Regions from separate parts of the Homo sapiens genome. Here region 2 is linked to region 1. A link means that fine-mapping ties the variant in region 1 to the expression of a gene that starts in the linked region. Tissue or cell type: left ventricle. Region 1 holds a variant in brackets; the other region holds the start of a gene. All regions are shown on one strand. Distances are between the middles of the regions.

Region 1 (15,565 bases):
AAAAAATAGAGTGGTGTGGTGGTGTGCATCTGTAGTCCCAGCTACTCAGCAGGAAAATTTGAAATAAAATGAAAAGAGAATGGTCGTTGGTCGGAGTAAAGTGAAGCTGGAAAAAATATTTTCTTGTTACTTACTATTTGTGTGATATTGTACAATTTGTTTCCTGACCCTCAATTTTCTTAATCGATGTGTGAACAATAATATTTTTCTTCTAATTATTATGTAAGAATTTAATGAGACACATAATTTCTTCATGTAATATGCTCATGTGACTCATAATTTGCTATATATATTTAATTCCCTTACCTTTCTCTTAAAATACAAGATAACATTCATTCATTCATTCTCTTAATAAGTAGAAGCACCTGCTAGGTTTTACTGCTTATACTAATTAAAACACCAAAATCTTTAAACCTGTTTTTTGTAAAGACCCCCAAAGAAAATAAAATATGTATATAAATGAGTTGTCCAATGCAGATCACATCATAATTAATATAATTCTGTCCACTAAATTATGTTCCTAAGAAGCTGTAGTTCGCAACCTAGCAATGAGATAATCTCTGAAGCATTTTACTATGAATTAAGAAATAAAGGGGAGAATACATAGCAGAAAAAAGAACCACAGATATGGAGTTAAATCAGAAGGAGTCAGATTCTAATTCCATGCCAATTGGATAGACTTCCCCAGTCTTCGTTGAGTAGCTCTCCATATGTCTCCAATTTAAACCAGGCCACTCCCAACAGGAGCTCTACCTCAAAGAAGGCTGAGAAATGGCTGGATGTCAGCGTCCTCAGGGTACTTAAAATACATTTGCTCTGACAGGATCTTGAACACCTGCAGTTATTTCAAAGGAATTTTGATCCAACAATAATTCACATAATTTATCATCTAGAGATGCCAAAGATTCTTTGAAAAACTATGCTGTAGTTAGCAAAAGAAAAAAAAAAGAAAAAAGTGATGGTGGGTGGCATTATTTTCACATAGGATGTTTTTACAGGCATCATTAAATTCTTGTTTTTTCTTTCCAGTCTTTGTTTCTCCGTAGTTGAAACATTGACTGTGGATGCATTTTTGAACTTTATTGTGTGTTTACAGTGAACACATACAAAGGAGCTATTCTTTTCTTTCAAGGGACCTGGGCTTTCAGTTTTGTTTTCATCTCAGATGAGAGCATATCTGAGAATCTCACCTTAATAACATTTACAATTTTGAGAAATTCCATGATTTTTCTTTTAACATAATCACACTGAGATTTGAAAATATTTAATGCATCTGAGAAGAATATGTTTAGTCAGAAAGAATAAGGGTTTGGATTCTTTACAGTTCCAGTTGTAAAATAAATGTCTTTCACCCAAATTTAGGGCTCTGGGCAAGCTGGGACAGAAAGGACAGCGTGTTGTGATTCCCTTTGTAAAACCAGTCAGATGTGCTCAAGGGGAAAAACTGGGGAGAAACTAGCAGTCTTGACATTGTGGATTGTGGGGAACCAGGTTTGTTTGAGACAAGCTAGGGAACTATTGGATCCAGTTAGCATTCAGAGAGAGTAAGAGAATTGATGCTTCCATAGGTAGACAGATATAAAGTAAAGCTTATGAAACCAAATCTACAAAAAGGCTCCAGGTCATCATTAGCAGAAAAGTTAATTAGAAAACGTGCTTTGAAAGTTAATTTCTTCAATAGTTACCTAACTTCTATCTTTGCTTTAAATAGAAACAACTTTATTAAATAGACAGAAGGCAGCTGTCTGCTGTCATAAAAAAACTTTTTAAAAACAAAAATTTATATATTGATTCCCCTGAGAGGTGTTTGGCTGCTACTCTCATAGCAGCACGTGACTGAGATAAGTCTACTATTGCTGTTCAGCTAGTCCTCAGTAGAAAACAATGAGCATAGGATTTCAGCTTTCAGGGTGAAGTCTATTTCCTGGAGAAATAGGGAAACCTCTACATTTTCCCCTTTCTCAGATTTTTCTTATTTAACAGAAATGATACTCCGTAAGAGCAGAATTGCCAAATATTAGTGTTCTTTGTAGCGGGTTAAATAATGAGTATTATTCTGACTCTACATCCTGAAAAAACCTGATCTTTCATAGATTTGCATGAATCAATCAGGATTCAGAAAGGTTGGTTAAAAGACATAGGATACACAAAAATAAAATCCCATTTTCAGATTGGATCAACTTGCCATGGAAATTATTACCAACATCATTTTTGTGTAGCTCTTCCAAACCTCAATTTGGCTTTCTTGCTTGGAAACACATAATTGCACAAACTATGCTCCCCAGAGACACTTTCCTGCACCTGAAAAAAAATCCAGTTATGCCCACAGACATGAACAAAAGAGCATGGATAGCCGAAATGAATCTCTCTTCCAAATGGGTAAAGGGACTCAGGCAGTGGCACATTGAGGTATTAAACATGTACTTTTTTTTTTTTTTTTTTTTTGCCACATTGATTGACCTACCAGAAAGCAGAATTGAAGAATGTTGTGGTTTTACTTGGGAGGTGGGTTCAAAAGCTTTTTGCTGCTAAATGGTATGGATAATTTGTATTTTATTTTATGATGAAAAATAGACTTATCCTGACTGAAACCTCTTAGCAAAAACCCTTTCCAACTTTTCAGCGAGGTTCTATTGAATCAAGTGCTTTAAGTTGATCTTCAGTTTCTGGCTTCAGAAAAAAATACCATGTCCATTCTGAAATGGAACAAAGTTTAAACACAGCTTTCTGGGTGGTTTGACACAATTCTAAACTAAAGACTTGTGCACTCACAGCATGACCAAGATTACCTCCCCGCCTCCTGCTGTTTCTTTATGGTGGCCCTTGATTGCAAACCTGCTATTACAGCCTTCTGGAATCCTTAACCCTTTCAAAGTAGTTTTTTTCCTTCCTGTCTTTCTTAGTTCGCTCCATATTTTAGAGATGGGTCTTGCTGAATCATCTCAGAATTTGTGATTTTTGTAGACCTGTCACACCCTCTAGGCTTTCATGGTACAATGAAGTTCATTACATTTTAATTTTTAAGTCATATTTTTATTATGAAAGTCTGCCTCAGATTTTATGAGTGAAATGAATGTTGGTTCAGAGCATGGGATCTAGGGCCAAACAACACTACCTGGGTTCAAATCCATGCTTTCCTTGTTAGCTATAGTATGCTTTTTGGACTGTTTTGTCTTCTGTAATTAGTTTTTTCATATGTAAAAAGGTTCAAAACCAAAGCTACCTCAGAGAGTTGTGAAGAGTAAATAAGCCAATGCATGTAAAGTGCCTAGAACTGTGTGTGGCACATATGAGCTCCAGAAATGTTAGCTATTACTGACCAAAAGTAGAATGTGATGTTTCAGGTGTGGGAAAGAGTAAACTTTTCAAAATTTAAATGATTCTCAGGATCCTGTGAATGATTGATACAGACCATCTAGTCACATTGGTAAATGTCATTAAAGACCAAGATTCGAGGTATTTAAGTTTCTTTTTATGTAGAGTAGGAATAGATATTTTTTTATAAAGACTTAGAGGCAGCCAAACATACCTATCATATAAGAATCGACCATATAAAAGTATTGGGGGGGAAAAAACTATAACTAGTTATCGAATGTGTGTTTCCTCCTAGGACTGTGAAATCAATGATACTCTGAGATATGCAGGGATATAGCTCCCTGCTGCCCCATAGTGGCAGTTGTTGTCAGTACAGTTTCCTCCCTGCAGGTCGTTAGTGGGGCTCCATGGAAATTCAACCAGTAGATTGCTAGGAAGGTAAATACAACCTACTGTATTCTTATCAGTAAAGGCCAGTGGCAATAATAGATAAGAAGAAAAGAAACAAGATCCCACCCACATAAGAAAAGAAATGTAAGTATCAGAAAGAAGTATCCTGTGAATTAATGTTGCCTGAGAAAAATGCCATTAATCCAAATGGCATGAACAGAGTGGCCCTAAATTGCTGTGAGCCTACATGAATTACTGCAGATTGGCTCTTGAAAACCTGCTACTTTATTCTCACTGTCTGTTTGTCTATCTATCATCTAAATTATTTTTCAAGCAATACTACCCTTATAGTATGTAGGGGCACTTTGAAAGCTAGTAATTTGGTGACACTTCAAGCCATTATATTTGAAAAACATTTTTTATTCTTTATTTAGAAAAGAGACTGAGCTTACAAAGGCAAGTCATGATGCATGGCACTGAGGATCATAGCTACCTTAGCCACATCTCTGCCCTCCTGAGCAATTCAGCTCTGCCTCCAAACTTGCATTTCCTACTCAGCAAAGTGAAAGTTCTATGAGTAAGTCAATTCCCCATTCTTAGAAAGCAATTTGTGATCATTTACTGTTTATAGACAACATTACCTATCAATACCAAGCAGCTTATCAAAGTGTTAACTCTGCACATATAGGTCTCTAATAAGGGTCCTGGTCGGTAGATACTTCCATATCTCACTGTAATTTCAGTCAGATTTTGGCAACTGCTAGTTGTTAGTGTCTTAGTTGCCTGTCTGTGCTTTCCCCAGGCTTCAAAACTTGGATTTTATCATCTGTCATGTTCCCACATCCAATATGTTGCCAGATTTGGTCCATCTGGTCTTGCAATATGACCTCCCACCATGCTTTTCTCTGCATTCCCCTGACACTGCCAAAACCCAAGCTCAATTACATCTCATCCAAATTTTGCCACAGCCTTAAACTTATCTCCCTCCCATCCTCTGTAAAGAAACAATGTGGTAGATTGAAGATATTATATGTTTTGGAGTCAGAGAAACCTCAGTTTGAATTCCAGTTTCACCACTTACTTTGCTGTGTGATCTTTGGCAATTGATCTTAATATGCATCTTAAAAAGGAGAAATAATAATCTCTTCAAAGAATCTAACACCCTGTTTGGCACAGTGTTGATACTTTAAAATGCCAGTTACCATTTTCCTTTCCCTTCTCTGTGGAAGATTCAAGGGCAGGCTAGAAGAAACCATCTCGTTGGTTACAGGTAATAAAATAGTGCATTTTAAATTACAGAGAATTTAAAGTTAACTGTGTAAATAACTGAAAGAACATTTGTTTGTTATTATATCCTGCACTTATAACCCTAAATAATGTCAGTGATAAAATGCTTCTCTTCTAAAAAATCCTTTTTTGGTATATGTTCTAAAGAATAGCTGCTATTGTTGTTGAGTTTCAACAGTAACATCAATTTATAGTAGCTTAAAATCAGCACATTTATGTTACCTACCTTTTGATAAGGTTTGGCTGTGTCCCCACCCAAATCTCATCTTGAATTGTAGCTCCCACAATTCCCATGTGTTGAGGGAGGTACCTAGTGAGAGGTAATTGAATCATGGGGGTGGGTCCTTCTCATACTGTTCTCGTGATGGTGAATAAGTCTCATGAGATCTGATGGCTTTATAATGGGGAGTTTCCCTGCACAAGTTCTCACTTTGCCTGATGCCATTCATGTAAGAGATGACTTGCTCCTCCTTACCTTCTGCCATGAACGTGAGGCCTCCCCAGCCATGTGGAACTGTGAGTCCATTAAAACTATTTCCTGTATAAATTACCCAGTCTCAGGTATGTCTTTATTAGCAACATGAAAACTGATGAATACACTTTCAATAAACACTGTATTGTACATAGGCATTAATCCAGAGAACTTTCAGTTATACAGCTTACCCCTGACATACAGATTCAGTCTTTGCCCACAGAGAACATACATAGCAGGTTGGAAGTATGCAAGCATGTTCCAGGCGTGATTCAAGTATTCCGATCTTGTAGTACTACCTATTCCTGCATTTAAACAGTTGATCTGAAATGAACAATTATAACTCAAGGTCTGTGAAGATAAAAAAGCAGAATTTGAATTAATTCCATTTCATGACCATTAAGAGTTATTTGCATTTAAATTTTCTGAAATTATTGTGAAATAGGATTTTTATGACTCTCTGCCAAACTTATGTCTGAGACTGTTTGAAACAACCTGTAGTATATTGGTTGCTTCAGATAAAATAAAATTTTGAAACTTAAAATTAACAAAACATGTTCTTTAGTCAACTTTGAATGAAGAGAGATTGATAAATATAGCTATATTTGCTATGGAACAGGAATATGAAAAACTATTGATTTTGATAAAGTTGCAGAAATCAAGGCTTTTAACAGAAACTGTAATGTTAATATTCATTATTGTGTCAAATAAACATGCATGTATAAGATTTTTCTCTTTTTCCAAAAATATTTTAGACATTTACAAGTGTATACCATAATACATACTATATATTGCTCTCTTTTACTGATTTTGTTTTTAATTTTTTTAGTGGTATAATTACATTGTAAAGTTTTAGAAAAGAAAATCTTAATGGTTCCATTTCTTTTCTAGCCATTGTCCTTATTTATCTCATTTTATGTTTATTACTGAAAATAAGTTTGTTATAAAGAGGAGGTAGGTGTTAAAAAGTGATGCACTTTATGTGTCAAATATAGCACCAACCCATCTTAACTCCAGGCCTCTCTCTTCAATTCTTTTCAAATATTAATGTCACTTATTTTTCTTGAGGCACAAATCTGATCATGCCATTTGTCTGTCAAATATTTTCTGGGGCATATTCTTTCATGCTGAAAGAAAGTTGCATGAAACTGCATTAGTGTGTGGCATTCATGGATTACCACCTCCTTGGGAATGCCATCTCCCCATCTTCTTTTCCTGTGTCCATAACTACTTGCAAGTCCACAAACAGGCCCTTTCAGGCCCTGCCTCCCACCTGTGCATATTGTTAACCTCACCTGGAATGCCTGGGCATCTTCTTTCTTCGTCTTCTCTAATCTTGTACTGGACCAACATCAGATTTGGGCTATCCTTTCATAAAACCTCTCCTGATGCTCCCAGGGAAAAAAAAATCATGCTCCTTTCCTCAGAATTTTCAGAGCTCTTGGGTTATGGGAATTTTCTTTTTCCTCTAAATCCCTTCATCTCTTGTGGTGTTTGTACATTTCTATTATATTATAATAACTTATTTATATTTCTTTTTTTAAATTTCTCCTTGGGGTAAAAGCTCCTAAAAGGCAAACTTCGTATCTTATTTATCTGATTCAGAGAACCAACAAGGCTGCTTGAGTAGGCATGGTGCTTCTTCTGCTTCAGTTTGCCCTTGCTGGATCCCCTAAAACTCCTAGCTGAGTGATTCTCATTTAGCCTGGGACCTGAGAAAGCCCTGAAGTTTTGCATGCAACTGGGTGTTCACATGTGTAGCTGTCAGATGAGCTGGACTCAAAGGGATTTAATCAGCTGCCATCCTTTCAAGCATGTCCAGTGGGCTAGTTTTTCTTGCCCTTGGATATAATTTTCGCAATTTTAATAAACTTTCTGATTCTTTTCAATCATAGCTACAATCTTATTTCAGAAACTGCAAAGTCCTCACAATGTTGAATTTTACCTGAGTCTTGTGCTATTGGTAAACAGTGATGGTTAAGAAATTCTCCCACTGTTTTGTGTTCTGAAGTAGCTCTTTGGACATTACCACCCTGCCCCCTGTGACTTAGAGAAGACTCGATGACTCTTTGTTTACCTACGACACAGACTGCAAATTCTCATTCTTTGACTTAGAAATAATTCATTGAACTACTTGTCCCTACTGGTCAATCAGAACAAAATACTTATTAACCAAACTTTTGTTGAGTTTCCCTCTTTCCTCCAGGGCCCTGAGCTCCCCTCTCCCCAGCCTGAGCTACATACAAGGTCTCCTGAGAGTAGGCTGGCTTCAAGGCAAAACAATCTCTGATCATACCATTCTTTCATCCACTTGTCAACACCAGTTCTTTGTAGCCCTGTCCACTCCTCCCGATAGCAGATACACTCTTTGCCTAACCCTTGAGGTGCTTTCATGTCTTACTGTCAGAGTGTTCTCCCTACTGTAATCATCCCATGCCTCTATTGCAATAGTCCCTTTCCTTACCTTGCAATAATCCTTTGAAAGAAAGTCTCTCCTTACAAAGTCCAGATACGTTTTGTATTTGACAGTCCAGACCAGAGTAACAATAAAAACTGCAAACTCTTTGGTAATTTAGAACTTCCCTCTGCCCTAGCTTTGAATGGCTTTAAGTCTGGAAAGCCCATTGTCTTTTTTTCTCCTTGCTTTGCCAGCACTTCACAATTTACTGGCTAAGATTCTGATTCTTTCACACCTGGCTGGGGGAAAGGCGATTTGTGAAAGAGACTTTGGCAGGTATTGTTGAAATTTGGTACTGGTGGCTCACCAGGGCTTTTTCTTCTTGGTACATTTTTTGTGGGTTTCCAGGAACGTTCCACTTCTGGAAATATCCAATGTCAC[C/T]TTCCCTCATACAGCCAGCCACCTCGGCCCCCAGGCCTTGGAAGTCCACCTTTTTGGGGGGTCATTTTGCTCACTGACATCTTTCCTCACAGATAGTACTACTGGGCAGAGCCCTTTTAAAGGGAGCCTAGGCCAGTTTCCTCCTGTGGTGCCCTTTGGCTCAAAGGACTGCTCACCTATCTTGGCAGAGAAGCATCTTGTTCCCAATTCTGCCCTTTCTCTGCATTGCTGCTCCCAGCCACTCAGGGTCTTTGTATTTCTGTCATGACATAGAGCCTATTTCCCTGTGTCTCCCAAGCAAGTACTCTGAGTGGATCCCCTGTAGCCCTACCACTTGGCTCCACTTCTTCCCTTCCCCACCTGAAGCAATGAAGAAAACACCTCAGCCCGAACTCCTCGCAGCATTCTCTCACCTTATGTTAATGTTCTTTTCCCCTGAACCTCTTGTATTACCTGCAGCTACATGAAGCATAAAGAGTTAGGGTTAGTTTTTGCAAATCCTGCATAGGTAGTGTAGTACCTTAGTTCCGAACATGGAGGTATGTGGTACCTACCTTTGGGCCTTTGAACCTCTGCCAAAACTATGCAGGAAAACTCCCTTTTACATATGGTTATTTATTTATTTTTCTGAAGCAATTTGGTCAAAGGTGTCAACACATTCTTAAAAATGATCTCCAATCCAAAGAAGGTTAAAACCGATGGGTCACACTAGATGGCCTATCATACACCTTCACGTCTCCCCTGTTGTTCACTCAGCCTGGTCAGTGCTTATTCTTTCTTAATTTAATACATTTCTCTTCATCATTCGAGACCTGGTAATGGCACCCTTTCTTCTCTAAAGTCATTCCTTCCCCTGTCACTCCTCCGTCTTACAGAACAAATTCCTGCCTTCCATGTGCTACCAACCAATGTTACCCATACCTCTGCATGACATGTCACTTTTAGTTAATTCTTTAACTCAACATATACTGACTGAGTGCCCCAGATGTGCCAGGATCTGTGTCAAGCAATGAGGATGTGTGAGGTGGACATGGTCGCTGACCTCATGGAATGTTTTCTCCTCTCCTTGTTTGTTTATTGTTTTGAAGAGACAGAATCTTGCTCTGTTGCCCAGGGTGGAGTGCAGTGACACAATTATGGCTCACTGCAGGCTCTAACTCCTGGGCTCAAGTGGGAGCCTGGCTAATTTTCTTTATTATTATTATTTTTTTTTGTAGAGATGAGGGTCTCACTATGTTACGCAGGCTGGTGCCTCAGCCTCCCAAAATGCTGGGATTGCAGGTATGAGCCACTGTGCCCAACCAACATTGTCTCTTCTGCTATATCAGGAATTCCTTGATGGGAGAGTTTTCTGTTTATTAATCTTTAATCCTTGCTATGTGGCTTATAGGAATGCTCAGTATATTTACTAAATAAATTAATTAATGGACTTACACACAAAGCCTTAAATATGTTGACTTTTGTGACCCTGAATATAACAAGCTTGTTTAAACTGATCAGGCAAAAAAGATGATAAATGTCCCAGAAGAAAGAGGAAGTTTCACGTGATCTGAAAAAAGCTTGTGAAACTAACTTCACGTTGAAGACCCAGAGTTTCTGGCCTAGGAGCTGTTGTGGTTTTGGAATGATTGTTGAATGACCAACAATCATTCCAGAGAGATACAGTAGAAGGAGTCCTGCTACTACATTTTTGTCACATTCTTTAGCATTTAAAATGGTAGAGCGCTGTTGATAAATTTTGTGATACAACATTCGCTCAACAAATATTTAGTGAGTACCTACGACATGGGAAAATGTGTACTTAGCAGTGGTGACAATCAAATCAATTATCTACCCTAGAAAAGCTTACAACCTGATGAGAAAAAAAAGAAGCAAAAAATGATATAATATAAAGCAAAATGTATATCAGATAAATATGTAAGTGATGATATGGGAAGTTCCAGTGGTGGAAAATAATCACATAGATTATGGTTCTGGAGAAATAAACTTCCCAAAGATGATACCATTGGAGCTGAAACTTGGAAACTGTATAAACTGTGAAAAGCAGAGCTCTTCAGGCAGAAAAGAATAAGAACAAAAGCAGGAAGATGAGAAAGTACAGCTTATATTAATTGATCTGTGGACATTTACATGCATACATTTTTCAACATTAAGCATTTCCTGTGTAGTTTGTCATTGGTTTCTAAGTACTCACTTTAGTCGCTAAAGAACAAAGTGATTCCTCTATAGCTTGAGGTACCCTTGATGACCTTATAGAGCAGTCACTCTGGGGTATGTTTAAAGACTTTGGGGAAGCCAGGGGCTTTCCTTCTCTTTGGTGTCTGCATTTACTTAGTGGGAAGCAGTGCATGTGTTCACACTTCTTATTTAAAGCAAAAAATTTGCAACAGTTTTTGTCTTGTAACTAAAGTCTTTTCATATTTTAAAATTGCCATCGACTCTGTGTATAGAGTCACTAAAACCAGATCTGGGTCAGTATGTTCTTGGGATCACATTTAAACTCAGGGACCACCACTCACCCAGCCTGGGAAGGGTCACGGCTTTATCAGTCACATACTTGAATCAGAATCAAAATAGTTTTCCTCTTAGCTTAGCCTTTTTCTCCCACATTTATCTGCATTCTCCTGTGTTGATTTCTTTGTGTTTTTGTAATCTACTTCTCTCTAAATTTTTTTTTTTGGCATACTTCCACTTTGTAGTCTGTCTCCATAAACCCGGGAAAATGGACACTTGCCTGTTTTATTTCTCTCAGTCTTTAAATCTGATTGCTGCTCAACTGGTACGGCCGGTTCACATTACTCACTAACCCCCCTGTGGTGTAGTGCCCTGGTAATAGCGGCCACTTATTAAATTCCTTACTAAGTGGCAGTCTTTGGGCTAGCTAATTCACATCATTTATTTCATTAATCCTCATTTTAATTCTTAAAGTGGATAATATTTGTTCGTAGATGAGGAAACTAAGGCTCAGGGAAATTAAGCAAAATTCTCAGCAAGCATCAGGGCAGAACATTCTAACACAGTCTACCTGCCTCTGAAGCCTCTTTCTCTGTATGATCCTTGAGATTCATGATGTGCAGTTAAAGTTGGGTGTATTAAAACAATTCACCATATAGAAAAAGGAATTGATAAATACATAGGGGGAATATAGATTCGAATAGCTGTATTGAGCAATAGGCAGTCATTTTGTTTAGACTACTGCCATAAGTGTTACTACAGCTCATCTCTCTTTTTCGTGTTTTTTTCTGTCACTGTGCTCAAAAAACAGGACTAGTGAAATACAGTTCAGAAATTACTTGCACCCACAGGATGAGCTTAGACAGCCTCCCATCTCTACTTCCTTCTCTGCAGATGAGGAAACTGAGGACAGGGGAGGCTAAGTCAGTGCCTGAGGTAACATAGATGAGGGTAAGGGAAGACTGGAAGATGAGTTCCTGACCTCTACCACGGTATGTTACCAAAACATATGGAAATTCTTGTTGAGACAAAACTCAAGTCAATGCAATCCAATTGTGGATTATTGCAGAATTAGCTATAAAATACATGTAAATATCAGGTACAAAATTTTCTCCTCCATTTATTCATCATATTTACCCATTTCATCTCCTTTTTATTCTTATGTACAGAATTCTCATTCCATTCTCACATTTTCTCTTTGGCATCTGTAACTGTTCAATTGTTTCTTAAGTGTCAATCTTAATATATAATATATTTATAACTTATTTATTTTTGCTAACTTCAGTAAGATGTGTTTATGTTTTTCTCTACACATCCTTTTATGTGGTTAGCCTTTGTGATACCATATTAGTGTTAGTGACTCTTTTGGAATTATTTCTAATGTTTGATTATTTTTGGCTTGTTAGCTCTGTCTTTTTTACTGCTTTGGTATTTTATATTAGCCTGTCATTTTATCATTGTTATGTAATCTATCATCATCCACTTTTTATTTCCATAAAACAAGCACTGTTGATGCATTTTGTCTTTCCTAAATATTAGCAGCATAGGTTCTATGGTTAAAATATGAGCTGTGGGCTCAATACTTGCCTCCATCAGTAGTTAGCTGGACAACTGGATAACTGAGGGCAAGTTACTTAATCTATTACTTCTTCAGTTTCTTCAGCTGTAAAATGTGGATAATAATTATCTTATTTCATATATTTGTGAGGATTAAATGAGATAACATATTTGAATCCATTATGTAAAAATGCATTCTCAATTTTAAATTGTATCCCAAAACATTCATTTTGACCATATTCAAGAAACAGATATTCTCCCCCTTTCTACATGTATATATTTTTTCACAGATATCTCTAGAACAATGATAAAAGATATATTTAGAATTCTTTATAATCCTACTACTATCTTACGAAATCAACTTAAATTTTTTTTTACATAATAATAATCATAGGATGGCTACATTTGGAATTCTCCTCGTTCATGCAATAATTATCATATTTCTTAAAATGTTAGATTTCAAAAGTATAATTTTAGTGCTATGTAATACTCCTAGGAGTTGATAATTTGCCATTTATCTTAATTTTACCCCTTGTCATTCAACATCTGTGTGGTGGCAGAAAGTGCATGGATTTTAGAGTTAACAGAGTTAGTTGATTTGAATACTGGTCAGGTAATATTCAGCAGGCTATTTAACGTCTCTGAGATTTACTTTTCTTATCTGTAAAAATGAGAATAATGATTTGTATCTCCCAGGATTATTTTATTTTGAAAAATTAATGCGGGCAAGGCTCTGACGCAAAGTATTTGCTGAAATATTTCCCTCCCACCCCATTCCACAATGGTTCTTTTCCACCCTACTCTCACTCCAATTTTTGCTCAAATATTTTCTTAAATGGAAGATATGTTGGATAGTATTAAAGAAAAGAATTGGACTGGATATGTTATATTTTACTAAGATGCTATATTATCAATTTTAAACTGAGCTCAACTAGGAAATTCTTTTAAATGTTACTCTTGTATTCAAAATTGATCTGGGATTTTTTACTTACTTCATAGTATTGAAATTAAGAAGTAATTATCTTACTTTGAAGCCATCATAGCAAAAACAAACAAAAACTGAATTCCCATTCATACCATGTTACAAATCTATTTGATACAGTTATTATCTATTTAGTTATTTCATCTTCAAAGAAAAACTACAGGGGCAGATTTAGAAGTTTGTGGCTGTGCCGACATCTTTCCTACTATAAGTTCCAAAGGCAACATTCCAGTAGATTATTTCAACTTTATTATTTTAACATAAAAATAATTGCATCAGAATTTTCACAATAAATTCACAACTGGAATGGGTGATAATTATTCAGATCTGTTTCCTTACTTGCCAAGAGTGTATTGAGGTATCATTAATTCTCTATGTCATTTCTCAGAGGCTTTTCCAATTTTAAAAATATCTGATGGAATATAAGAACAAAGATTTACCACAAACTAACTTCCTGGAATTGCAAATGAAATCACCAAACTATGTGAATGAATTTTGGATCCATGCCTAATGCTATTCAGCCACATCTTTTCTTTATCATGATTCTCTCTGAGAATGTCTCATTGCACAGGGCATTGAATAGCTTCCCTGGGTAGTTTTGTTTTGTTTTGTTTTTTCATCAGTAGTTTACCTAAAATACAAATGGCATTGAATTCGCAGTTAATAAAATATATTATATGGCACATTTTACTAGTGAAATGACATTAGAGTGAAATATTTTCATCTAAAATTATGTATAAGGATTGACTTAAGAATGGTTATTTCAGGCTATTAGATAACAGAAGTTCCAGGAGATATACTATATGGTCAATTATTTGAAAGGTTAAAAATCCAATTTAATTGGGAATATTATTATATGATGATTATATTTATTATTATATATGATTTATGTTAGAATCGTGCCTGAAAATTTTTGTTAAGCTTCCAAACTGGCACCGTTCATAGTAACCATCATAAGGAAGAGATAGTACAAGAATTGAAGCCCAGCCTCTGAAATATTCTGAGCCGAACTTGCAGTGACGTTCAACTTTCAGCTCCACAGCCTCTCTTGCAATCTTTTAGCAGCAGGCACTGAATTACTGAGAGAAACGTAAGATTTATGTTTTTGAAGATAAATATAGGCATATATCTTCAAACTCATATTTCAGACACAAAGGGGTCAAAACATAGTGCACGTCTACTATCTTTCTTGAACTGTTCCTTCTTTCCTGGTCCAGGTGGTTTTCAGGTACAAGTGTAAGAAAGAGCAGTCAAGTGGTGTGATCTAAGGTGTATATAGGAGCCCTTCTCCCCCTCCCAGTTTACCTGAATTTCCCCCACCTGCTCTCTGGTACTTGAAATTCCCTTAATAAAGGACCTAGATTTAAATTCCACACTTGAAGATAGAAATGGGGATCAAAACACAAATACTCCCTTTGAGAAAGAGCACATTGACTTAAAGTCACACTAAAATATCTGGTTATATCAGATCCTTGACTCAAAAGCAGGTTTGTTGTTCAGGTAGGGGGAGAACAAAATAAATAACTTCATAGAAGGAAGTATGTGTTAGCCGAGTTTTATAGCGAAGACTATTTCCATTTGCCCACCTAAAAGCAAATTCATTTTAGCTACATTCAAGCGTCAGTCCCTTTATTTATTTATTTATTTATTTATTTTTGGTAAATGTAATACTTCTCAAAAAGAGAGGTGAGAACATAATTTGCTCTGAATTATTGGATGCTCTAAGTGTATCTTAGTTTCCTAGGTTAGAAAAAAATTACACAGTACAACACTGAGAATATAAGTGTGGCATTGTTGAGCCTCTGCTTAATAATCTATAAAGCGTTATGAAGAAACTTACAGATACCTGAAGACTAGATTCTTTTTTGAAATTTGTAAGAAAGTAAATTCCACAAACTTGTTACTTGTCTTGGGAAAGATTCCAGAACAGATTATTAAAAGATTGGTTATAAGAGCTCAGAAAACAAGTGGGGAACTACTGGGTTTATGAAAAAAAGCACAACCAATTTTGGATTCATTCCCTTTTGGGATTGTGGATCAGGGGCATGGTATGGACGTTGTGCTAAGTTCAGTAATGCATTTGATCAACTCTCTGGATATTGGTGGAAAAATTTGAGCTGAAAAATAGGACAGTGTTTAAATGAATTTATAACAAGTTAGAGAACTATGTGCAAAGATCATTGATTAAAATTAACTTATGTTATCTTTAGCCCTGCTCTATTCTGTATTTTCAGTTATGACCTTGATAAAGTTGTAGATGATATGAAAC
Region 2 (15,565 bases), 140 kb before region 1:
AATAAAATTACCCATTGCAGACTTGGGAATAAGTCTCACAGGTATCCTTATGAAAACGTGTAAACAAATGAAGCTGTTTCAAATTGCATAATCCTTTAAGGAATCTCCACACTGTTTTCCATAGTGGCTGTAAAAGTAGAACTACCATTTGATCCAGCAATACCACTACTGGGTATCTACCCAGAGGAAAGGAAGTCATTATTCGAAAAAGATACTTGTACATGCATGTTAATAGCAGCACAATTCACAACTGAAAAATCGTGGAACCAACCCAAATGCCCTTCAATCAACAAGTGGATAAAGAAACTGTTATATATATATGGTGATATATATATATAACTGTGATACATATAATATATATATCACCATATATATAATGGAATACTATGCGGCCATAAAAATGAATGAATTAACAGCATTTGTAGTGACCTGGATGTGACTGGAGACTTATTATTCTAAGTGATGTAATTCAGGAATGGAAAAGCAAACACTGTATGTTCTCACTGATATGTGGGAGCTAAGCTATGAGGACACAAAGGCATAAGAATGATATAATGGACTTTGGGGACTTGGAGGAAAGAGTGGGAGGAGGTGAGGGATAAAGGACTACAAATATGGTGCAGTGGACACTGCTCAGGTGATGGATGCACCAAAATCTCACAAATCACCACTAAAGGACATATTCGTGCAACTAAATACTACCTGTACCCCAATAACTTATGGAAAAATAGAAACAAAAATAAAGTCATATGTAAGTAAACGTTACAGAATGAAAACATGGTAGAATAAAATAAAGCACAGGCTTTTTAAGTTTAAAATACATATATATGTGTGCGTGTGTGTGTATATATATGTATGTATATATAAGTGTATATATATGTATGTGTGTATATATATATATATATATACACACACATATTTACTGGCTTTAAAAGGTCTAAAAGAACTTTCACCAAACAGTACAATGGATCTCACTGCATGATGGGCTTATGTATGGATTATTACTTTTTTAATAAACAGTTAAAGCTTTGCAATAAGGAAAAAAAAATTGCATAATCCTAAATCTTTAATTGTCTTATCAATACAGGTTGTCTCTTTCATTAAAGACTGAGAGTTTAAAATGCAGAATTCACCCAGAGAAGACAGCCTTGATTCTAAGTAGTTGGGAGGGTTGCAGGAATAGAGAAAATACAGCCCACTATGCAAAAGCCTTCACAGGAGACAGACAACATGAAATTGGCTGAACCAGAGGCTCCAGTTCTAATGACTTGGCCAAGCCTCAAGGGTTCCACACACATTCCTTCCAGGCTGGTATCTGACCTACCCTGTGATCAATCTTTGGTCCCCTCAATAATTCCCTCTCCTTCCTACAGCCTTTCTCCTTCCATATTATCTCCACAACCTAGCGTATTCCTACTGCTCAGAAAAGCTACTGTGGCATTTTGATGGTGGGGAGAGTCAAAGCCTCCTGCAGCTGTGACCTCCAATGAACAGAAAGGTATGAGGGTCATCACAGCAAAGAATGTTAGGCTCACTGACACAATACATTCCACAGATACTCCACACTTGTAGCCAAGTACCTTCGAATGGGAAGTCTCTCCCATGTTTAGAGACAGTTCATTTAGGAGCTGAGAGATTTCTCTCTATAACCATAATTGAGTTCTCTCTTTCGGCACAAGGGCTGTGTACTTTAATGCTCATGCCATGACTGGATATATAAAGACAAGAAGAAAGTCTGGAAATGCTCTGAAACTGGCTGTAGTTAGGGAAAGGTCCCACAACTTTCAAAGAGATTTGGGACCCTCAACAATGAAAAAAGCATTTCCTGCAGAAGTAAACTAACTCACTAATTGTTTTTCTTCTCCAAGATGCCTTCTGATATCCATATATTACTACTAGCATTAGTACTTCTTATAAATGAAAACAGTGGGCTGGGTATGGTGGCTCATGTCTGTAATCCCAGCACCTTGGGAGCCTTAGGCAAATGGATCACTTGAGCCTAGAAGTTGGAGATCAGCCTGGGCAGACCCCAACGCTACGAAAATTTTTTTAAAAATTAGCCTTGCACATTGGCATGTGCCCATAGTCCCAGCTACTCAGGAGGCTGAGGTCAGAATGCAGCTTGAGCCCGAGAGGTCAAGGCTGCAGTGAGCTGTGATCATGCCACTGCATTCCAGTCTGGATGACAGCCAGATCCTGTCTCAAATTAATAAAAAAAGAAAAAGTGAATAGTGTCAAATACTGTGATGTTAAGATAAAAATATTTTAGGCAAGAATATGTTTCCTGCCATGGAGTTGACTCTTACTTCTTAAAATGTACTACAGTTTCTGATCACCAGTAACTCTCCAATGACAAATGTGCATTAAAACATTGTTTTATTTCAAAGTTTCCTCCTCCCCAGAAGGCCAATATTTAGTCTAGGCTTAAGAGAGGAGACCCAAAGTACCTCCACCCGGGTTCCAAACCAAATGAAGGTTTGATGGGCTGGAGACTGAGCATTCTCAGGCATTTACCTGTCGTGGATACAGGTATATACTCTGTATCTGTGAGCCAATGAGAAGCAAGAATGCTGAGGCCCTTTTGCCCCACAACAGCCTCAGACTATGGTACACTTACTGAATACGTCCCTCCCACAATTACTAAAACTATGAGACCTAGAAATACCAGAGGGAGAGGGAGACAGGACCTAGGGGCTGAGACTTCAGTGATGCTGTGAGAAGTCACATGGCCAGGTAAAGAATACATAGTACCCAAAAGGTCTGAAGTTTAGTTGTCACTCTGCCATTGATCTGCTATGAGCTCCAGAAAAACCCACAGCCTTTCTGGGTTCAGTGTTTTCATTTGGTAGCATAACATAAAGGAATTATACCGGAATGCTCTGATGTTTCCTCAGGTCTCAAATGTTATTTAGTCCAGCCAACCTCATCCCACTCTTATTATATTGATCAAAATACTGTTCATAGCATAATTTCACAATAAATAAATTAATAAGCAAATTGTTTCATTGCTTCATGTTCTAAGAAGATTAAAAAAAAAAAGGTGAGAAAGTCAATTCCGTACTTTTGGAAATGAATATTTGGAAGTTTGGAAGTACTTCAGTAATTTTTCTAGGCTACAACTAAGCACAATACCAACAAAACATAGAGACTCAAATCAAAATGCATTAGGTTTCCAGAACTTGGAGAATTACAGTTTCTTTTTAATATCTTCTCCTTATAAAGCCTGTCAAACACTAAAATTCTGTTGACCATTTTTTATTTTTCTATATTAAAAGAATGCTGAGGTACAAATGTATGAGAAAATTAATATTTGGTTTTTATTTATTTGTATTTTATTTATTTTCTTTTTTGTAAATGGTCTCAGATACTTTCTTTTGCTAAATGGTGTGATACAGATAAATCCAATAAATATAATAATTTACTTAATTCATTATCATCAGGAAGGCCTGGAATTAAAATTCTTGATTTTGAGTTTATAACGGTTTCATTTCACTTATTACCTCTACATATGATCATTTTAAATGTCAGACTAATTGAACTACTGAATTGAATGCAGGCTATTAGCATTAAATGAGACTCATGCAATAGAATATAAAGGTATTACACTGTCCCTATTTTGTGCACTGTTTAATAATCTTAGGTACTTAGAATTTTTAGATGTGTTTCTAATAAATATTTTTGTAGATACGTCTTGACACAAGTGTTATAAATGTTTCTTACAGATATAAAGATCATTTCAAAGTTTACTCTCATAGATTTCTGATACGTGTAAATTCCAATGTAGCTCATAACCATCCAAATATTTCAAGTCTCAGAAATGCAGATTACAATAGTCACTGTTACCCTGAGATTTTCAAAGCTGATTTTCTACCAGTGATCAGTGGGGCCATACATATATTTCTACTGCAAATATTCTGGAAGGCTCTGCTCTCTGGAATTCCCATTCCACACTGATCCAATAAAATCTGACTTTACAGATTTTCAACACGTACCATGAACCAATCCCTCCTCCTCGGCTGCTCTCCAACTCAATAATGGCAGTCACATTCATTACATTTAGTGAGTCAGACTTTCCGCCGTGCCTAAGTCACTCCCAGCTAGTATGGCAGGTGTGTGATGAGTGACGTTAGCTGTTTCAGGAGTCTAAAAAACCGTGTAAGTTTAAAGCAGCCATGGTAATGCCCTACTGGCCTGAAAGAGTAAACCCACCCTCCATTAATGCCTCACATATGACTTCTGTGTTGGAGAGAAAAGAATGCAGAACATGTTCTTTTAAAAAATAAAGCAAAGGCTTATTATAATCAGAGGATTTGTTCAAAATATTTATAAGTCACTTTAAATAACACAGTTGTTTCCTATTTTTGCCATTGGAAATAGTGGGATGTTAAGGTAGAAAAAATAAGAAGAAATTAGTCTTTATGACACTGGAGATTTCATCTCTTTTTTAAAAACTGCCCAGAAATAACATTAAGCATCTATCTCAAAACCACAAAACCAATAAATACAGAGTTAGAAATGCCACTACATCCTTATTATCCCTTGGTTAGTGTGCCTTGCCCTTTTTCTCTGTTCACAGTTGCATAATTATTTTCTCCCTGGAGAACATGGAGGTCAATCTAAAGTCAAGACTGGCTCTAAATGAATGTGCTGTCTATGATACCTGGCTCTCCTTCCAACAAGACAAATGTGGTTGTGCTACATAAACACACAGGAGAAGGCCAGTCACACTGCAAGTCACAAATTTACAGGCATATGAAATAAGACATCCCAGAGTCCGTGACTGTGAGGCTGATAACTAATGAGCTCTCCAATTAGAACTTGGAGAACTGGTTATACACTTTGGAAACAGAATAAAATAATCAAAACTTTTAAGGTCAGAGATACAGAATTTTTCAAGGTCTAAGATTCATACTTTGGAAATCTACTGCACACTATTGAGGTTCAGGGTCTGGAAACCCTAAATTTAAACGTCTTCCAAAAAGCAAAAAAAAAAAAAAACTCAAGCCCCTTTGTAAGAGTTCTGTCTTTTAAAAGTTTGTTAACTTAGGTCAACACTAAATCCGCGAGAATGCTCCTTTCGTATCTAGGTTATGTGGTTGTTGATATAAAACCAGAAATAAGAAAGTGGTTTTATATAAATGCCTAAGAAATCTTGATCTTCATAAGGCCCAAACCTCAAGCAGAGTTAAAAGCCTGATAATTTGCATAATAACATGTGGTCTCATCTGGATTTTTTACAGAAAAAGTGGTTTTGAGTTATCTAGATAATTGCTCTACTCCTCCCCTCTTCCAATTTGTATTAATAGACATAGAAAGATAAAACTTTCAATTATCTTTGAAATCTTTATCATTATTGCCCTTCAACAGAGTCTAGAAGTGAAGTCTGAACTGACTCAAACCGGTTGAGTCTTCCCCACTATTCAAATGGGGCCGCGTCCCGATTATCAGTGCAATGTGATCACTTGATTTTAAACGCAACTATGCGTCCAAATGGCTGAGTGCAAGAGGTCGGCCGGAGATAGGGCCGAGTGCGCTGCCCCAAGCTGCGATCCCTGCCAAGCACTCACGGACAATGCACTGGTTTCCTCCAGGGAGCGTCTTCCATCCAGGGCAGCAGTAGGAGTGGAATCTGGAGCCGCACACGTTGGGCCTGTGATGGACAAGCGCGGTCACGTAACAGATAGGTAGAGGGATGCAGCAACATATAAACGGTCTTCGTAAGCAATGCCCCGAGCGAGTAGATTTCAGGACAACAAACAAATCAAAATTACACTTCAAATTATTGGAGATCGGGAGGCAGACGTGGAAGCAAAAGAGCTAGATGCTGGAATGCAGGAGGGTCAGAAATGTCTAAACACTGCCTTTCATCTGTCGTCCCTTGCCTGCCTTTTTAAAGGGCGAAAAGAGGCATGGAAACATATAATTTGCTACTATTCTAGCTTCCAGATGCAGAGAACAAAGGGACCATTCCGTTCCAAAGAATCCTTGCCCTCCTTCCCAAATCCATTCCTCCTTGGTCAACTGTTACTTTGGCCCCGACGTGTCAAGGAAAGCGCGTCGCAAGGTGGAGCGCTCGGGTTGACGATGAGAAGGTGAGCTGTGAACCCTGCACACGTCCTCAAACAAAAGGCTCACGAGCGGCGGCCCCGACGTGGGGAGCAAGCAGGCTTCTCTGGCCCCTGCAGCAGGCGGACCCAGGCCCGCCTGCCGCCGGACATTCAGAACCTGTTCCCGCAGCGCGAGCTCTGCACACGCTCTGCGATCGGCACCCCTGGACCCCCTAACCACCCGCCGCCCAACCCCCGGAGAGAGGGCTTTCCGCCCGCTGAGCTGCGGGGTTGGGAAGGAAAAGGGGGACGCGCTCCTGGGGGTCTTTGGATATTCTGGCAAAGGGGGCTGCAGCTCTAGGCTCCAGCTAAAGGGTCTGGGACGGAGTGGGCCAGAAAGCCGCCAAACTGAGGATTCCCCCCTCCCCCAAGCCGGAGCCCTAGGTGCGGAGCCGCTTGCCCACTTACCCTCGGAGCACGTCCTGCTGTCCTCGCCGGCGGACGCGGCTGGCCACTGCGGCACCCTCCTCGCGATACTCGGGCGCTAGAAACCCGCCTTCAGAGCCTGCTGTAGCGGACCGAACCTGTTGCGGCGGCGGCTGGGGCCGGGGCGGCTTGGGCGGAGGAGGCTGAGGCTGGCCGGCCGTGCCCTGCGCCCAGAGCACCACACAGCCCAGCCACAGGAAGTAGAGCTGGAGACACAGCCTCCGTCTTCTCCCCATCGCCGGCGCCGAAAGCGCGCGGCCGTAGACCCGCGGAGAGGGAGTGATCAAAGACAAAATCTGCGCGCCTCAGAAAAGAGTCAGGGTCTAATAAGCCCTTCGTCGGCTCCGGGGACTCCCTCGGGCTCGGGCTCCCTGCTCTAGCTGGAGACCTCGACAGAGCGCCGGCCCCCTGACTGCCCGCGAAGCGAGACGCGGGGCGCCGGGTCTAGCGCAGTGAGCGGCGAGGCGCGGCGGAGGTGCAGCCGGCAGCCCCGAGCGGTACACGTTGCATAACCGGCCTAAAGCCCCGAGCGACTCCAGGACCGTCAGCGGGCGGGGGAGGAAATTACAAAAGCCCTGGCGTAAAATTTCAAAAAATGTGAACCTCAAAAGAAAAAAGGGCCTGCACGCAGAGCTCGGCGGATTCCCGTGCGCTCCGAAGACGGATATTGGAAAGCTGCAAAAGTCACCAGAAAGAAACAGGCAAGCAAACAAAAGTCGCCCCCAGAAGAAGAGGAGGGTTCCCTCCGGGCTCGCTCGGAGTCCCACAGGGCAACGAAGCGCGGGTAGCGGCTGCGGAGCCGGGCGGAGGTGCGCGGGGCCGGGGCGTGCGGCCAGCAAGAGAGAGGGCGGGAGGCTGGGCGCTGGAGAAGATGCGGCGGTGGAGGGCGCGGCGCGGGGGTTTTAGAGGCCCGGCGGGGCGCGGGGCGGGCCGGCGGGCGGCGGCTGTCAGTGGGGGCGCGGCCGTCCACACGTGGGGCTCAACCCGGACTGAGAGGCCGGCGCAGAGTGGGCGGGGACAGAGTAAGGGAGAGATCGGGACTGAGGAACGAGGGGAACCAGGGTTGGGTGAGGGGAAGAGGAAGGAAGGGGGGGAGGGCGAAGGGAGGGAAGAGGACGGAGATTGGGGAGAAGGGGGGCGAACCCGAGAGGAAGGCCGGGCTGGAAGAGGGACTTGGAAAGAGGGATTGGCGAGCCCGGGTGCGAGAGGAAATGAGCGGGGGATGGGGGCGAAGTTAGGGCAAAGAGAGAAGTGGGAAAGGAGAGGGAGGGCCAAGGTCCGGGCGCCGAGAGGAGGGGCCCGGGGGGCCGGCTGGAGGGGGCGAGGCGCTAGGCGGCTTTGCTTCCCGTCCCCGTCAATTGGCCGCTAGCTCTGTTTTGACTGCCTGTACAAAGCGAGTAGACGGCGGGGGATGGGGCGATTAGGGACCGGATTTGGGAAAGGAGGCAGCAGCCCCTTCCCCTCCCCCTCCGTCCTCGCCCGGCCGCGGACCAGGGACTAGGGTGCCTAAGCGCGCCAGGCTTGGCCGGACCCGCAGCTGAACTGACCCGCAGCTGAACTTCCCCGCCGGACAGAGGCCGCAAGGTTGAGGATGAGAACGGGTCTTTCTGTAGGGTCCCGGCCCCTGACCTGGGATGGGGGGATTCGCAGTCAGCCAGGAATAGAGGCTCACGGGGCTGTTGGTTGCAGCCTCAATCCAAGAAGGAGGAGACCTCCCCTTTGCCCTCCTACCCCCACCGCCCCACCGGGAGCGGCGTCAGTCTGCGGGACCAAATTAGGGGCTGGGAGTTTCCAGATTGAAATGCGCCCTCCACCACCAAGAGGGAGCTCACGCGGCCGCGGGGGGCCGAGGCAGCCAGCCGGCGCCGCGGTCCTGGGGAGTCCGTGCAGGGGTGTGCTCTGGTGTGAAACCTGGCAGGACTCTGCCTGGGCTTGCATGCAGGGAGGGGTTAGAGACTCTGAAATGTACTAGCGGGCAGGGTGGTGACAAGGCGGGTAAATGAGGCTCGGGGCATGCCCTTGCTTCCTGGCTTGGACCCCTTCTGATTGATTAAATCCTAGCAATTGGTGCAACCCTCTGTACCTCTTAGAGTGCCTCTCACCGGCCTGCTCTGGGTTCTTCCTTTGTGGCCCTCCTTTCATGAAATCTCTGTGAAGTCCTGGTCATTTCTCATTTAGTGGAATATCACAATTTAAAAATCAAACACTCCTGAAAACAAGGAGAGACCATCCAAGCACAGTTTGCGAAACAGTACAAAAGAGCAGTGTCTGGTTTATTCAAGCCTAGAAAACCTTAGTTTAAAGGGGAAAATGTTGAATATGTATAGGAGGGTGTGTGTGTGTGTGTGTGTGTATATATATACACGTACATATATACATATATACACATAACATATATATGATATATATCATATATCATATATATCATATATCATATATATGATATCATATATATGATAGATCATATATGATATATCATATATATGATAGATCATATATATCATATATATGATATATGATATATGATATATATGATAGATCATATATGATCTATCATATATATCATATATCATATATATCATATATATCATATATATCATATATATCATATATATCATATATCATATATATCATATATATCGTATATATCATATATCGTATATATCATATATATCATATATCATATATATCGTATATATCATATATCATATATATCATATATCATATATATATCATATATCATATATATGTATTTCTGGCCCAAATTGCCCAGATGTGCTATTTGACAGCCAAAATTCTCCAGTAATTGGCACAACTCCCTCCTTTATTTCTCCATGTAGTCAAAGGGTCTGAAGGTAGTACCCCTTGTTACAGTATTCTCATAAAGCAGAAGAAAAGATAAGAGTTACATAATTTCATGTGAGACACCGATTTGTTAAAATCCAGAGAAAGAGCAATACAGTTATTTTCACGTACTTCGCTTCAAATAATAAAATTATTTAAACTAAAAGAGCTAACTAATGTAACTATCTCCTGGTTTAAAGCAGTGTTTTAGTCATACCATTTAAAACATCCTGTATCTGCTTTTTTTGTTGTTGTTGCTGTTGTTTAATACTTACGTGGCTTCATGGTTCATTCCTGTCCATCACATTAAATCTAAATGCTCTAGAATTGCCTATGCCTTTACCCTTTGATCCAGCAATTCCACTTTTAGGAACCTATATAAAAGATACATAGACAAAAAAAAATGAAATGGTGCATACATTTGACTGTTCTTTGCAGCACTGTTTATAATAGTGAAAGACTAGAAACACAAACTTCCCATGAACAAGCAACTGTTGTGTATGACTTCATCTATTCAGTGAAGTATTATGCAGCTGTCAAATATGAATGAAGAGAAACTCTGTATGCTCTTAGAGAGTGATCTCTAGCATATACAGTCTACTAAAATAAAAAAAAAGCAAGGTACAGATAGACTAGGCAGTTCATTGAGACAAAGTAGAATAAAGGTTACCAGGAGCTCCAGGAAAATGGGAAGGATGAGTTATTGTTTAGTGAGTACAAAGTGGTCTGCCTAGGATGATGAAAAAGTTAGAAATGGATAATGGTGACGGTGGTCCAACATTGTGCATGTACTTAATGCTACTGAATTGCACGCTTAAAAATGATTAAAATGGTAAATTTTATGTTATGTCTATTTTTTACAATATTTTTTAAATGAAAGCTGTATAATATTGTATGCTACTTTTTAGGGGTATGAGTGTGTTATAGATTTAACAACAAACAAGAAGTATAAACTAAATCTAATAAAAAATGGTTATCTGTAGAGAAAGGGGAGACTATGAGGAAAGAAACAATGGTGGAAGCTAAACCTTTCTAAATAAACTTAGTTTTATAGTTCTGGCTTTGGAACTATGTTCCAAAGACCTAGAAATAGTGACAACCCAAAAACCATAAGGTCATTGTGACCAGATTGTGGTTCCTAAATACCATTTCTAAATTAAAGGAATCAGGGTTCCTTGGGTGAGTGGCAGATTCTAAGTCTGGGAAAGGAAATGCATAAAGTGAATCTGGACTATCTGTCTTGTCATGCCTGAAAGCAAGAAATTATCTGACTATTAAGGTCATGTCAAAAGGAAACCTGAGCTAAGTTGAAAGAGATCTTGCTGGTTAAGGATGGGGAAACTTGAGCATCAAAAAGAAAAAAGAAATGACAGCAAAAGATTGAAATACATGAAGTGTGTCAGTATTCAAGATTTCCGAATGATACTCCAAACAAAAATTAGTTGGCCACTTTTGGAGGTTGTTAGGGCACAGCTCACTATTCTAAACGCATCGATAAATAAAATTATTAACCAGTTATTCTTCCTTTGCTAGAAAGACCCAGAGAAAGTATTTCTTTTGAAAAAAAAAAAAAACCACAGTTGTAAATGCAGGAATGATGGAATTAGAAAAATCACTACTTGTAAACCCTAATAAAATAATGGACCTAGGCAACGGTTTTTAACAACTGCTAAAACCATTAGGTAAGAAGTGTTCAACTTGTGGCCATTTTTCCTCAGGGTATATTTGGCAGTAATTGGAGACATTTTTTATTGTCACAACAAGACAGTGTGTGGGAGTGGTGATGAGAGTATCAGAGATGCTGCTAAACATTCTACGATGTACAGGCCAGTCTCCCATAGCAAAGCATTATCTGGTCCAAAATACAAATTTACTTGGGAAGCCGTGCATCAAAAAGTCAATTGGGAACTTTTTAGTGAATGTGTCAAGCTGTTACCACCAGAACCTACTGATTAATTATTAACTTATGAAAAGTAAGACAACCAGACATTATGTTTTTATTTTTATGGTGCAATAGGAGGTACACAGACCACCTATGAAATATCTTTGTCAAAAAAACTGAGCCTGAATGTAACCATATCTCTACATTTAACTCCCAGTTTCCAAGAACAATAGAGGACCATGAAACATATTAAATGATACCTTGAGAATATAGGTAACCAGATCTAGAATGGGATATACCACAAGACCAAGTTCTTCAAATAAATGACATCAGTAGAGAAGAGGGAGGGGAACTGTTATGGCACAACCACCAAAAGCAATGCTTGCCCCTTATCTGGGATTTTGATATGAATGTTAGTGAAAAATAACATTTTTGATGCTATCATCCAGTCTAGTAAGTCTTATTTATATGGTTGCAGCTACAGTCAATATATAACTGCAACTGCGTGAGACACCCCAAGTAAGAACTACCCAGGCAAACTCTTCTGAGTTCCTGACCCATAAAAGGCTAAGGCAAAATAAATTTTTTAAACCTATAACTTTAGGGGTAATTTGTTATGTAGTGATAGAACACTGAACTGAACACTGGTTACTAGATATTAAATATTTATTTTTAATTTTGGGAGATGTGACAATGGAATCATTGTTATATTTTTAATATACTGGCTAATGTTATACTTACTAAAGTCTTTATAGATGAAATGATAGGATGCCTGGGTTTGATTCAAAATACTGCAAGAAGAACAAAGGCAGAGTGGATTAGATGTACTTTATTCCTCTTGGCAAGTATACTTAACTAAACATAAATAAATATATGTGGAGAGAGAGAGCATGCACACATAAGAAGACTGTAAATGGTAGGGAGAAGAAGGCAGACTAGTTACCCTGCTAGTGACCTTGGAACCTGAGGAATGACATGATGGTGGTTTTCCTGAATTGTCTTTTGCTTTTTGTATCCCAGAATGAGTGCTAGGAAATCTGGCAATTTGGAAATGCCATTGGCAACAGACCAAAGAAAGCCTCGAAAGAAAGCCTGCCCTCTCTAGCCAAAAGACAAGAAAGGGATAGCCTAGAAAGACAAAACACTTTTAGACAATAACTGCCCTAACCAAACCACAGAAAAAAACTGTAGTCACCTTTACCAACAATGGCCAAGTAAGGAGCCTAGACTTTCATCCTTACCAGGGTGTAGCAAGGTATCCCTCCCCTTCTCCTGGATAGTGTCAGAGAAAGCCAAGTGGAAAGCTCAGACTTTCATCCCCCTGCACAGTCGTGAGCCACCTTCTCCCCATGGTGTCAGTGGAGAAGCTGGACTTCCACCTCCACCTAACAGTAATGAGATGCCCCTGTCTGCTGGGATGGTGTCAGAAGATACCTAGTAGATGCTCAGGAATCTTCTCACTGCCCAGCAGTAATGAGGCCATCCCACCACCACCAAGGTGTCATGGAATATCATGGGAAACTACATTGGGAGCAGTAATGAAACACCACTGTCCTAGCCAGAGTGGTACAGAAGAGCTTGAGTGGTGACCCTGTACTGTCACCCCTGCCCAGTAATAAATAACAAGTTACTCCTCCCCTCAAGAGTGTCAACAGAGGCTGCATGTAGATCTTGGACTTCCACCGTCATCTAGCAGTAATGAGGCATCCCTTGCCCTGTCTGCCCACCATTGCAGTATCAGAGGAGGCTGCTAAAACAAAGAATTTAAATATAACCCAAAGTCTCACAAAATAAAGTAAAAAATGTCCAAGATTCATATACACCTACTATTTACCAGCAATTTTTTTTAATTCCAAGATTCAACTGAAAATCATTTATCATTGAAAGAACCAGGAAGATCTTAACTTAAATGAGAAAAGAAAATCAATACACATCAACACTGAGATGACACAGATGTTAGAATTGTCTGACAATATTCTTAAAGCAACTACAATAAAAATGCATCAGTGGGCCATTGTAAAACTCTTGAAACAGATGATAAAAGAAAGAAAGTAGAAAGCATCAGCACAGAAATAGAAGACATAAAGAAGAACCAAATGAAAATTTTAGAATTTAAAAATAAAACAAAATTTTAAAACTTAATAGATGGGTTTCACAGCAAAATTCAGAGAGCAGAGGAAAGAATCAGTGAACTTGAAGATAGAAAAATAGAAATCACTCAAACTGAACAATGAAGAGTATATACACTGAAAAATCAAACAGCCTTAGGGAGCTATGAGACTATAATAAAATATGTAACATTTGATTATCTGAATTTCAAAGGAAGAGAAAGAGGATAAAGCTGCTGAAAAATTACTTGGAGAATAAATAATGGTGAAACATTTTCAAATTTTGGGCTTTGCATAAATATACAGATTCAATAAGCCTAATAAGTCCTAAACAGAATAAACCCAAAGGCATTCACATCAAGACTCATCATAGTCCAAGTTTTGAAAATTAAAGGCAAAGAAAAAAATCATGAAAGCAGCGAAAGAAAGGACACTTTACTTGTCCTTTCTGGAAAAAAACAATTCAAATGATAGCAGATTTTACATCAAAAAGTGTGGAAGCCAGAAGGGAGTGACACCCATTTCTTCAGTGCTGAAAGAAAGTAAAGAACTGTCAACCAAGAATTCTATACCCAGTGGAAATATCCTTCAGAAATAAAGGACACATGAAGACCCTTTTAAATGAAGGAAAACAAGAATGTGTCTCCATCAGACCCACCCTAAAATAATGGCTAAAGGAAATTATTTAATCAGAAATGAAATATTAACCAAAGGATTCTTGAAACAAGAAGGAAGAAAGAACAAAAAGAGGGAATATATGGAAAAGTATGAGTAATTACAATAAATTTTATCTCTTGATTTTTCTAAATATGGTTCATACAAAAATTATAACATTGTCTCAGGTATATATAAGAAATATTTAAGAAAATTATTTTGTAAACAGAGGAAGGGAAAGACACATAAAAGGTGGTAAGGTTTCTATACTGGTAAAATGATAATACTAGTAGACTGTGATAAGTTAAAGGGGTAGCACAGGGAGACCTTTGTGATGAGGAAATAGTTCTCTAACCACTTGGTGGTGCTTACCCAAATCTGTGCATGTGAAAAATGGAATAGAATTATACATACACATTGTGCCAGTGTCAATTTTGTGGTTTTTATATTGTACATAAGAAATAACCATTGGGAGAAACTAGGTAAAGGGTAAACAGGATCTCTCTGTGCTATCTGTGCAATTCTCTGTGAATCTATGCTTTTTAAAACATTTAAAATATTAAGGATAAAACCTTTTTAAAGAAACTTGACACATTCTTACCCATCTTCTGTCAATGTAGAGATATTTCATCCCATGCGATTGAAAAAAGGAGGTTAATAGATGAAATGGCAAAATGTTGATAATTATTAAAACTGTATATACAACCCTCTATCAGTAATTTAAAGATGCAGCAGATGGAAAACCAATGAGAGCATAGTTGAACTGAGCACCACCACCGATCAGCTGGATCTAGTTGACATTCATAGTATATTTCATTTAATAACTACAGAATACACATTCTTCTCAAGCTCTCATGGAATATTCACCCAGATAGACCACAACTTTGCCCATAAAACACACCTTAACAAACATCTAAGAGAATAGAAATCATACAAAGTATGCTCTCAGATCACAATAGAATTAAATTAGGAACAAAAGACAGAATAGAGCTGGAAAAATCCCTAACTATCTGGAGACTAAATAATAAACTTCTAAATAACAAACATGCCAAAAAAGAAGTCTCAAGAGAAATTAAAGAATATTTTAAACTAAATAAAAATGAAAATAGAGCTTATTAAAATTTTCAGGGCCAGGTGCGGTGGCTCATGCCTGTAATCCCAACAGTTTGGGAGGCTGAGGTGGGCAGACCAAGAGATCTGTGATCAAGAGATCGAGACCATCCTGGACAACATGGTGAAACCCCATCTCTACTAAAAAATACATAAATTAGCTGGATGTGGACGTGGTGGCATGTGCCTGTAGTCCCAGCTATTCAGGAGGCTGAGGCAGGAGTATCACTTGAACCCAGGAGGCAGAGGTTGCAGTGGGCCAAGATTGTGCCACTGCACTCCAGCCCGGTGTCAGAGTGAAACTCATCTCAAAATAAATAAATAAAATAAAATAAAATAAAATAAAATTTTCAGGATGCAGAGAAAGCAGTGCTTTGAGGAGCATTTATAACACTGAATGCATATATTAGCAAAGAAGGAATATCTAACATCGA

Which allele goes with the higher level. Alleles are on the strand shown, and positions count from the first base shown. SD is a standard deviation of normalised expression in the study named.
In carriers of allele C in region 1, the expression in left ventricle of the gene that starts at base 7,411 in region 2 tends to be higher than with T alone (moderate effect, 0.53 SD a copy in GTEx).

What was found.
Region 2: FBN2 starts here. The variant in region 1 is fine-mapped to the expression of FBN2 in left ventricle (GTEx, PIP 0.98).

The regions. Positions count from the first base shown.
Region 1 is chr5:128,671,374-128,686,938 of GRCh38, forward strand. The region is part of intron 2 of LOC105379168 (a long non-coding RNA gene); the gene reads left to right. Among named protein-coding and RNA genes, the nearest start is that of FBN2, 140 kb to the left of the region's middle. RefSeq lists an enhancer at 1-92. The variant C/T (reference allele first, on the strand shown) is at 8,304.
Region 2 is chr5:128,530,835-128,546,399 of GRCh38, forward strand. FBN2 (fibrillin 2) reads right to left here and starts at 7,411. Exons shown (of 65, transcript NM_001999.4): 1 at 6,516-7,411; 2 at 5,568-5,650. The coding sequence starts at 6,769. RefSeq lists enhancers at 5,081-6,011, 7,737-8,237.